Homo sapiens: one gene and its partners. The protein of the gene in region 2 interacts with the protein of the main gene of each other region in a biochemical or structural test. Each region holds a gene or a part of one and is shown on either strand. Other genes may lie near its edges. The genes, in order: ESR2, CCNC and HACE1.

Evidence for each region.
Region 1: the proteins of CCNC (region 2) and ESR2 form a complex in vitro, tested with the Homo sapiens proteins (one study listed by BioGRID).
Region 3: the proteins of CCNC (region 2) and HACE1 form a complex in vitro, tested with the Homo sapiens proteins (one study listed by BioGRID).

Annotation. Positions count from the first base shown.
Region 1 is NC_000014.9:64,256,308-64,259,963, reverse strand, and holds part of ESR2 (estrogen receptor beta), read left to right. Parts: intron 1-2,548; exon of another isoform or gene 2,549-2,599; coding exon 2,600-2,738; intron 2,739-3,656.
Region 2 is NC_000006.12:99,544,596-99,548,251, reverse strand, and holds part of CCNC (cyclin-C), read left to right. Parts: intron 1-1,777; coding exon 1,778-1,857; intron 1,858-3,021; coding exon 3,022-3,140; intron 3,141-3,656. UniProt on the Homo sapiens protein: Component of the Mediator complex, a coactivator involved in regulated gene transcription of nearly all RNA polymerase II-dependent genes.
Region 3 is NC_000006.12:104,769,319-104,772,974, reverse strand, and holds part of HACE1 (E3 ubiquitin-protein ligase HACE1), read left to right. Parts: intron 1-900; coding exon 901-1,050; intron 1,051-1,585; coding exon 1,586-1,782; intron 1,783-3,656. UniProt on the Homo sapiens protein: E3 ubiquitin-protein ligase involved in Golgi membrane fusion and regulation of small GTPases. Acts as a regulator of Golgi membrane dynamics during the cell cycle: recruited to Golgi membrane by Rab proteins and regulates postmitotic Golgi membrane fusion.

The DNA of each region.
Region 1 (3,656 bases), on a different chromosome or scaffold from region 2:
GGAACCTGGAACGTGGTTAAAATGATAGACTCCACATTGACCCATTTCTTGGCTGTGGATTCCTCACCTTGAAAGGAGGGGTGGGGTAGAGTACAGTATGACTAGTTTGAAAGTGAAAGGTTTGTCAGATGCTAAATAGAATTTTGTAAATTATTGTTCCAGTAGAGAATCAATATTATGTACATAAATGAATATGTATGGACAAACAGAGTAAATCAGTGGTTGAAGTTACACGAATCATCAATGGGCCCATAAACCTGGAATGCCATCAAGTTAAAAATGAGCTTAGTTACTCATGAGTTGTCACTTGGAACCTGCGTTTTCCATCCTCCAAAGTGATCACTTCTCTCAAGCCCATTTGTAATATATATCTGAAGTGCTGTATGATGCTAAAATTACCAGCTAATTATCATTTGACTTGGTGTTTCTGTGGAGGAGTGAATCTAGGATTCTAACCTAGAGTGGCAACACCCCACGATCCCCCTGTGACAGCTTCTCCATGCTGTTCTTTACAGTCCTTGAAGAAATGAAGTCTCTTATAAGTTCTGAGCCACTGGGGGCATTCCCATGGCCTGGAGGGCAGCGACTGCACTGGGCAAGCTGTAAAGATGAGGAGGGGTGAGAAGCTGGGGGAAGAGAAGTTTTGGGTAAAGAGCCTGGGGAACTGAGGCCTATGGTGACAGTATCATTTGGGGACTTTTGTTGGCCTGGGCCCATTTCTTCTGAGCTTCCTGAGGATTTTTGGTTTCTAGTTGTATTTTGTTTTGTCTAGCATCTTCACCTTTGCCAGAATTATTTTATTTTCTCTGCTTTTTCCCAGGGGAGGCAATACTGATGCACTTTCCTCTAGTTTTTGCTTTAAATGTATTCCAAACACGATTTTGCAGGACCACACATGGAGAGCAGTGGTGAAATTAATTATTGCTGAAAGCTGTGCACCTTCTTTGTGCCATAAGAAATCTGAACTCTTAAACTGCATTATTCCTTATTCAAGCCTGGTGTTTTGAAAAGTTTTCAGGAAACGTAGACATAATCTGAAGGCGTGATTTTTTTTCTCCTCTCTTAGCTGGCATAGTCATTGTCCAAACCAAAAAATATATATTAAAATATCATCTAGCCTTGATCTTGTTGAATATCTACAAGATTAAGAACCGTGATCTCTCTTGGGTAGGCTTATTGTCAATCACTATGGGTGAGACTGGGAAGGTATATACACATTAGGAACCTAAACTGAGCAAAGCATGTGGATTTAGAAAGTATTTATCCATCTTTACATTCATAACACCATTACATTCTCCTTGAGGCAGATTTGCGTTATAATTGTTCAAAGACTTGAACCATGTGTGTTCTCTCTGCTGTAGTTTCCTCATCTGTAAAACAAGAATGATAAGAGATCCTGCCTATAAGACATTCTCAGAGATAGGCATTGTTACCCCCATTTTCCTATAAGAAAAACAAAGACTTAATGGGAGATTAAGTGAACAGCTAGAAAGAGGCTGAGCTGGGGTTCGAACCAGAGTCCATTTCACTCCAAGGCGGTGTCTTTTGTTATCATATTTATATTACATGGCCCTCTCTTTTTATCATGGCTTGTGAAGGAAGCCCCGGTGTTCTCTGCTTTGCTTTTGAAGTGCTTCCCTCCCCAGAGATTACCTGTTTGCAAACAGTACTGTGACCAACATGGGTTATTAGGTTGTCAGGACCTGCTTCGTTATTATATTTGCTCTTTATTTATTTATTTATTTATTTATTTTTGAGACAGGGTCTCGCTCTGTTGCCCAGGCTGGAGTGCAGTGGCGTGATCTCAGCTCACTACAGCCTCGACCTCCTGGGCTCAGGCGATCATCCCACTTCAGCCTCCAGAGTATCTGGGACTACAGGCACCTGCCACCATGACCAGATAATTTTCTGTAGAGATGGGGTTTCTCCATGTTGGCCAGGCTGGTCTCAAACTCCTGGGTGCAGGCAATCCACCCACCTTGACCTCCCAAAGTGCTGGGATTACAGGTGTGCTTGGCTATATTTGCTGTTTAGGATAGAATCACCCAGAAACAGTGCTTCTACCCAGAAGAAGGATCTTAACACTGGATAGGAAATTTTAATCAATCAGAGAAATCCTTGCAGTTGAGGCCTTGGTTTTCTGTGAGGGCTGGCACTGCTCTCTGCAAGCCTCCAACCCCAACCTCCACCTACCCCATCCCCCACCTACCCCATCCCCCACCCCTTCTGATCCCAGTCAAGGATTGGGTCAGACAGGCAGGTCTTCTGACTGGCAGCCAAGCATCAACATTCTCAGTAGTGCAGAGGAATTATCAGGACACAGCTAACAAAGATCAGTTCTGAGCCGAGGTCGTAGTGCTTGACAAACTCTAAATGAAGTATATTTGTCTCTAGAAGGGGTCCAAGACTGGAAACTAAGTTGCGCAGCTTAACTTCAAAGTTTTCTTCCTTTAATGAGCAGTTAATCACATCTATAAAATATCAACTCCCTAATGGTTTGTGTTTTCTTAGTGTTTTAACACTTGCCATTCTGTCTCTACACACACAGGGAGCTGAGGAGGAGGGGTGGGGGTGTCTCACCGCCTCTTGCTTTCCCCAGGCTTTGTGGAGCTCAGCCTGTTCGACCAAGTGCGGCTCTTGGAGAGCTGTTGGATGGAGGTGTTAATGATGGGGCTGATGTGGCGCTCAATTGACCACCCCGGCAAGCTCATCTTTGCTCCAGATCTTGTTCTGGACAGGTGAGAAAAAATACATTGTGTTTCTTCTCTGACTTGTTTGAGTAAGGTGCTTAGTGAGTGGGAACAAAGTCCTGGGTGCTGCAATTAAAATCTCACACTTGCAGGGCAGAGGATGATAGCATCATCAGCTCCTTCACTGGGTCAAGAACCAGAGAAGGAGAGAGTTGGGTCCAAGGATTCAGGGTCCTGTGACTCATTTTTAATCTGTGGTGCAGCAGCATTTACAGGCCAGCGCTTTAATAGGGGACTGTATCCCGTAGGTATGTGGCCACTATGTGTATAAGTCGACACAGATTTTTCTCCATTAAAAATTCCATTTTCAGGTTATAATCTTAAGTTGTCCTGCTGTTTTTTGTACCTATAGTGACCAATTATATCTGGAGCTTTCTGGACAGGTGATAAAATTCTTAGAAATGTGCCAAGTTTATTTTCACATGCTTTAACTCACTCTTTTGTTTTTTTTTGTTTTGTTTTGTTTTGTTTTTTGTTTTTTTTCTGAGATGGAGTCTCTCTCTGTTGCTCAGGCTGGAGTGCAGAGGTGCAATCTTGGCTCACTGCAACCTCCGCCTACCGGATTCAAGTGATCCTGCTGCCTCAGCCTCTCAAGTAGTTGGGATCACAGGTGTCCACCACCATGCCAGGCTAATTTTTCTATTTTTAGTAGAGAAGTGGTTTCACCATGTTGGCCAGGCTGGTCTTGAACTCCTGACCTCAGGCGATCTGCCCACCTCAGCTTCCCAAAGCGCTGGGATTACAGGCGTGAGCCACCATGCCCGATCTGCTTTAACACATTCTAATGCATGTACTATATAGCATTTTTGGCAATAGCGGTGGAAGGAAGGGTTACTAAAACTATATGAAACTTAACAGAAAATGGGACATGATGCTGTATCTTGGTTGTGTTTGATTTTCTTTTAA
Region 2 (3,656 bases):
TTGCCATCCCTGCTGTCTTCTTCTTGGGTACTTTAACTGAGATTCATGGCTTCTACTATCACTTACATGCCGAAACATTTAAATCTCTTTATTTAGCCAAGATCTTGCCACTTGGCAGTTCTTTATATCCATCTTCCTTTTACATAGCTCCGCTTGGCATCCCACCAGCACCTCAGACTCATGATGAGGATTGAGCTTATCACTTTGCCCCAAAATATGTTCCTCCTTTTAATGTCTTTGCCAGTTTGGTGAATAGCACTAGTTATATACCTTAGTTGGAAACCCAGCAGTTAGGCCCTTTCATCTCCCTCAATACCCACATGTAGTTGTTTACCAGTACATTTTGTGCCTTCCTCTCGATTGTTCCTTCTGTAATCTCATAGTCATCTTCTCATTTCTATCCATGTTACCACAGCAGTCTCCTAACTGGCTTATTAGCCTCCAGCACTCCCATCCTCAGAGAGCCTGTCTATCTTCCAAACTGTTGAGCTAGGCTAGTGGTTTCACCTGGGGATAATTTTGCCCCGAGGGGACATTTGGCAATGTTTGGTTTTAGTTGTCATAACTAGGGTAGGGTGCTACTAGCATCTAGTGGGTAGAAGCCAGGGATGCTGCCAAGCATCTTGTAGTATTCAAGACAGTGTCAAAGAATTGTTCAACCTAAGATGTCAGTAGTGCCAAGATTGAGAAACCCGGAGCTAGCCAAATTCGTCTCCCAATTGATATACATACTATTCTCTTCTCCCACTCTCATTTTTTTTTTTTGTAAGACTTGGCTTAGATATCAGCTCTTCAGTGACCCTCCCCCACCCTTTCAGCATCACCTCAGTCTGGGTTTAGGATGCTTCCTCAATCTTCAGTGTACTCTATGCATGCCCATGTTAATAGCATTGTCCACTGTATTTTAATTTCCTGTTTTTATCATGTCAGTCATTTGGTTTTTTTTAACCTCTTCTTGACCTAAGCCCTACTCATAGCTTTGCTTGACTTAGGGCAACCAGTGTGTCAGTTCACATTTGAGTTGCTATTTGCCTAGAATGTCATCCTTAGCAAAGACATGGATAACCAGACCACGGAGTATAACTTAAGCTGGAGTGGGTTAAGGGTATACAGGCTGCTCAGTAGAAATTGTTTTAGGCAAAATTATGATGTAGATTCCTCTCTTTTGTTAGTTTATATTGTATATAACATATATAACTAATATTGTATACAGTATATTACATTTATTTTCTAACCTTTATTTGATTACAACACTGAATTCTGTAAGGATGTGCCCAGCTTTCACATAACTTGATCATGTGCTAATAATGAAAAGGAAGAAAAAAGGCCAGGCAACACTGCTTTTAACTGAAATGTGGAAACACAGTCAACATTGTTAAAACCTAGTATATTAATTAACATTTTTGTTTGTTTTGTTTTGTCACACTGACTTCTGGGTGCAGTTTAACGGCTACTTTGTACACTACTCAGGGATAACTTCCCTTTTCTGCTCTCCTCATTGGATGTTTTTCCTCTTTAACGTGCCTGACTCTCAAGGCAACTGCACCATGACTAGCACGCAGTGAGGACCAGATGTCAAGAACTTGATGTAATCTAGTAATTTTTTCTGTCTCGGATTACATTGATGAGATGGTCAGTGGTAACTCTCATATGTAGCTGTTTAATGTTTTTTAAAGAGTGTTGGAAAATACACAGGAAATAGTGAAAAATCTTTGTTAGATCATATATTCTGTGTTTGCAGTTAAACATGGACAGTTGTCTCTCATTTTCATTTCAGCTTGCCTACATGTAGCCTGTGTTGTACAGCAGAAAGATGCCAGGCAATGGTTTGCTGAGCTTTCTGTGGATATGGAAAAGGTATTCCCTTAGTTGTATGTAAACTTGGATGTTTAAAAATTAATGTCATATTTACTTATCATGAGCCTAAAATCTTGTGATGTCCACCAGGCTAAGAAGATTATTGGTTACAAAATATTAAGAAACATGGGCTGGGCATGGTGGTTTGTGTCTGTAATCCCAGCACTTTGGGAGGCCTAGGTGGGCGGATCACCTGAGGTCAGGAGTTCAAGACCAGCCTGACCAATATGGTGAAACCCCGTCTCTACTGAAAATACAAAAATTAGCTGGGTGTGGTGGCATGCACCTGTACTCCCAGCTACTCGGGAGGCTGAGACAGAATTGCTTGAACCTGGGAGGCAGAGGTTGCAGTGAGCCAAGATCGTGCCACTGCACGCGAGCCTGGGCAACAGAGCGAGACTCCGTTTAAAAAAAAAAAAAGTTTGGTAGGAAGAGTTAATGCTGATTATTTAAGTTATGTATCTCTTTTCAGTTTAGGATTAAACAGAATGGTAAACTTTTGGTTTAATTGGTTGCAAAGTAGCCTCTCATTCCCAGGATTATTTTAAAAGCTCCCTGGTAACCACTGAATACTACTGTGAACTTCTGTAACATAGCCTATCTCCTGGCAGAATGGCTTTTGCTGTGTTTCTAGCTTTTCTGCTCAAGTGTTAAATGCATTAAAATTAATCCTAAGGTTAGGTTCTACTCAGGTGGGAAAAAAATAGCTAATTTGTTAACTAGTTGTTTCAAATTTGTAGCTGCCAGTTTTTGAGCACCTTAATGTATGTGTAGTAACAGAGAATCAAAACATCTTTTGTGCACTACCCCCGATTAAGTTGTTTAAAATAATTTATACTAGAGGAGTGTGCTCTATAGTGGTATATTCCCTCATGATTAGAACCTTTATTCTTAGTATGTTTCAGTTTAAAAGATACCATCAGATGGAAGGAAATCAGCTGCAGAGATAGATAAGAATGGACAATGCACACATGCTGAAAAATGAGATGCTAGAAGGAAAATCCTAAACAGCACTGTGGTGAAAAATACTGCTTTCAAATTTATCAGGATTTAAGGACAGAGACTATTTACTGTTTTCTGAGGGTTGTGTAGTGATGTATGCTCTTTATATAAAAAATGTTGCTTGTTTTTGCCACTGAGAACTTTTCAAATATTTTCTTCTAGATTTTGGAAATAATCAGGGTTATTTTAAAACTATATGAGCAGTGGAAGAATTTCGATGAGAGAAAAGAGATGGCAACCATTCTTAGTAAGATGCCAAAACCAAAACCACCTCCAAACAGGTACTTTGTAGACTTTAATTATTGATGTCATTTAATCATATATCATACTTACTATATTTTTCTTAGATTATGTTGTTTTGTAGTTTTTAAAACATTTCTTCCAAAACTTCATGATCCATGTTAATTTTATTTTTTAAATTTGTGATTTGATTGAGAATGTCTCATTTAAAAAAATCACTAATCTGATTAGTAACTTTTCCTAATGCAGTGGAGGTATATTACAGGTATCTCTCAACATATGGTCATATACCATAAATTTAAAGCTGACAGAATTAGGTAAGTTCATCTGAAATTCAGGGCAGAATTCAGAACTATAGTAGTTTCATGTCAGTTTGATTCTGTGCCATCTTTTTTTTTTTTTTTTTTCACTGCTGGCTATTGTCCTGTTTTATAAATTTCAGTAGCAATTTTCAAAAATTTCAATGAATGATCTGATATTGTAAAGATAAAGAATTTTGGTTTTTAAGTGACCCTAAGGTCCATGGCACATAAGAATATATTTTTGCTAAAAATGAA
Region 3 (3,656 bases), 5.2 Mb from region 2:
CAGTGGCATTTAAGTACATTCACAGTGTTGTGCAACCATCGGCCACTATCTATTTTCAGAGCTTTTTCATCACCCCAAGCAGAAATTCTGTACCCGTTAAGCAATATCTCCCATATCCCCTTTCCTCAGCCTTAGGTAACTACTAATCTACTTTACCTATCTATAAATTTGCCTATTCTAGATATTTTATAAAAGTGGATTCATATTCCATTGCACTGGATTTTCATAGTAATTGGTAACTTATTGCCCTTGCCATTTTTACTTTCACCTCAGAGGTAATTGTTTAAACTTAATTGTTTGCCATTAGAAAGACTTGGTTACCTTGTGGACTGAGGTGATTTTCTAATCATTGTTAACAGGCATCAAGTTCATTGACTAGGCCTGTCACTTAAGAGCAGTTGTACATTTACAGTTTTTAGTTATTCTCATAGTGTTCTACTCCTGAAGCAGCAAAAACTAGCAAATACTTACTGCACTGGCACATACAGATGAATGGGATAATGTCTGTCCTAGCGAACAGCCTATTGCCATACTGCCTAGGAAACTGTGTATATGTGCGTGTGTGTGTGTGTATGTGTATGTGTATATGATCCTCTGCTGTATTATTTCCAGAGTGTCTCTGATGATCTTCCAACTAATTTCAGTCAAAAGTACTCTAAAATTTTCTCTCTGCCATAGATTACTGTGACAAATATGTATGAATAAATGATTATCATCTATACTTCCAATTCTACTTACCACTTGTTATATTTTCCACAAAGAACATTTCTCTGGAAGTTTATACATAATGTAACCTTAGCTTTGCTGAAGTTGTATGTGAATTAGTTTATCTGCATCGAAGTAATCTTTCTTCTGCATATAGATTCTTAATAATATATTATTTTGTATTTATTTCAATAGGAACAACTTTTCAGCCTAATAGCAACTCTTATGTAAATCCTGATCACTTGAACTATTTTCGGTTTGCTGGGCAGATCTTGGGATTAGCGTTGAACCACAGGCAGCTGGTCAATATTTACTTCACACGATCCTTCTACAAGCACATTCTTGGTATGGCTCTATTATTATTTCTGCAGACATTTATTTATATTGTTTTTTTTTCAGTTTGAGGAAAACTAGATAAGCAGTAGTATTTTGGATGAGATAATTTTTATTTTGATTGGAGCCCATCTGTATATGTAAGCCATTCGGGGTTTGAAGGAGAAAAAAATGACCTACCTTTTTTTTTTCCAAACACCTCTAGTTAAGTTAGCCTTTTTTTTTTTTTTTCAATTTTTGTGTGTGTATTTTTATGCTAAGAATACATTTCAGTGTGAGTATACTTAAGATAATTGGCATTTTTGAAGTTTATAATAACTTCCTGAATAGTTATTTCAAAGAAAGATTACATTGTAACAATGTGAAAGAAACACAGAATTAATTTAACAGACTTTCAAATTCAGGAATCCATTTAAAATATGCTGTGTGTAGGATTGTATTATATTTTGCAGTTTTTCAGAATATCTGTAGAGGGCAGTATTTTACCATTAAATAGATAAGGGAAGGCAAAACCAGACTATAACTGCTGTATGTTTGCATTTTTTAGGTATTCCTGTAAATTACCAAGATGTGGCATCCATTGATCCAGAATATGCGAAAAATTTGCAATGGATTTTAGATAATGATATAAGTGATCTGGGTCTAGAACTAACTTTTTCTGTTGAGACTGATGTGTTTGGAGCAATGGAAGAGGTGCCTTTGAAACCTGGGGGTGGGAGTATTCTTGTGACACAAAATAATAAAGTGAGTATTTCAGTTTTTACCTTAACCATTGTTTGTAACTTGGCCCTGATAGTTTGCTAGTTACTCTAAATTCTTCTGGCACTTGTAGAAAAACTTTTACTATTACAGTATCATAGCAGATAAAACGTTTAAGTTAATAAAACAATCAAATGTTAAATTTTGAATTAGAAAGGATTATTTTGATAATTGTGCTAGCTGTGCTGAGTTGGTTCCTAAAAAATCGAGAGCACTTCAGCTGATAGTATAAATTGGGCATATGCATTTTGAGAAATTTGATTAGAAATATAAGCTTAAATGAAGATATTTGCAAAAATTGCTCTTTCATGTTTTTAAAGTGTAATATTAAAGAATTCTAATAGAGAAAAGAAATGCCAGTGTTTAAGCTTTCCACATACTTTTGGGATCCAGTAAGTTTGTTCGACCTTTTGATATTTTTTTGACTGTATAACTTGATTATTTATTTATTTATTTATTGAGACGAAGTCTCACTCTGTCACCCAGGCTGGAGCGCAGTGGTATGATCTCGGCTCACTGCAACCTCTGCCTCCTGGGTTCGAGCAATTCTCCTGCCTTGGCCTCCTCAGTAGCTGGGATTACAGGGGTGCGCCACCATGCCCAGATAATTTTTGTATTTTTAGTAGAGACGGGGTTTCACCATGTTGGCCAGGATGGTCTCAAACTCCTGACCTCAGGTGATCTGTCTGCCTCGGCCTCCCAAAGTGCTGGGATTACAGGTATGAGCCACCACTCTCGGCCTTATTTTTATTTATTATTACCTCTCCTCTATATGTATTATTTAAAAATCTTTGCATATGTTTTAAATTTCACTGTTCAAAGTCATAATATGACTTTAAGATTTAATATGGCTTGGTGTTTTAATATGTTATATGAGGTATTTGGAGTTAGAAAATATCATATGAATTCTAGTTCTGTTGCTTACAAGTAGCAGCTTCTGGTTGAACAATACTAAACTGCCCCCCTCCCTTTTTGTTTAGCTGAATTATAATTCCAAGACATCTTCAGAATCAATTTAACTATAAGAAACAATGTTCACTGAGCCATTTTTTAAACTATAGATTTAGTAAAATGTGGATTATTTTAAAAAGGGTTATGTTTAACAATTCTTCGAACTCAGTTTTCTGTAGAATTGGAATAATAATACCTCCCATACAGAATTGTTATTAGCATTTTGTAAAATGAAAAGCACAGCACAAAAGTTAGTTGTATTGGGTAGTTTTCTATAAAAATAGGTTCTTAGTTTCAGATATATAAAGGGAATTGGAAACTTATTAGCAAGCGACATAATTTTACCTTTTGAAACTTAAGATACTATAGTGTACAAAAAAAAGAGATTGAATTCTTGGAAATAAAGTCAGGAGTTGAGTTCTTACATATTCATACTTAGAAATTTTAAATTCTACCCTCTCATTTTACATGAAATGACACTAATCCTAAAGAGTTAATGGCAAAACTGGGGCCAAAACCCAAGCCTCCTAATTTCAAGTCTAATGTTCTTCATACTATATGCAAAATTAATTGTGTCGAGGAAGAACTTACTTGATTTTTAATGTAAGTCATGTTAAGCTCTAGAAGATTATAATAGTTAAACACTTAATTTTTAAACCTATATGATTTGCCAGTGAGTGAAAATATTTTTAGAATCTTTTTTTAGATTGTTCACCTTGTAGCATGTTTATTATTTTATTTTACACTGGAGGCCTACCCTCAATTAAGGGTAATGAAGTCATAGAATCTTTATTAAGCAATGATTGCCTTTGATAAGAGAACCATAAACATGATTCTTATCTGTGAATACTATATCTGGTGAGGTTTGTCACTCCTTTCAGATATATATGACAAAGTGGAAAGATCTA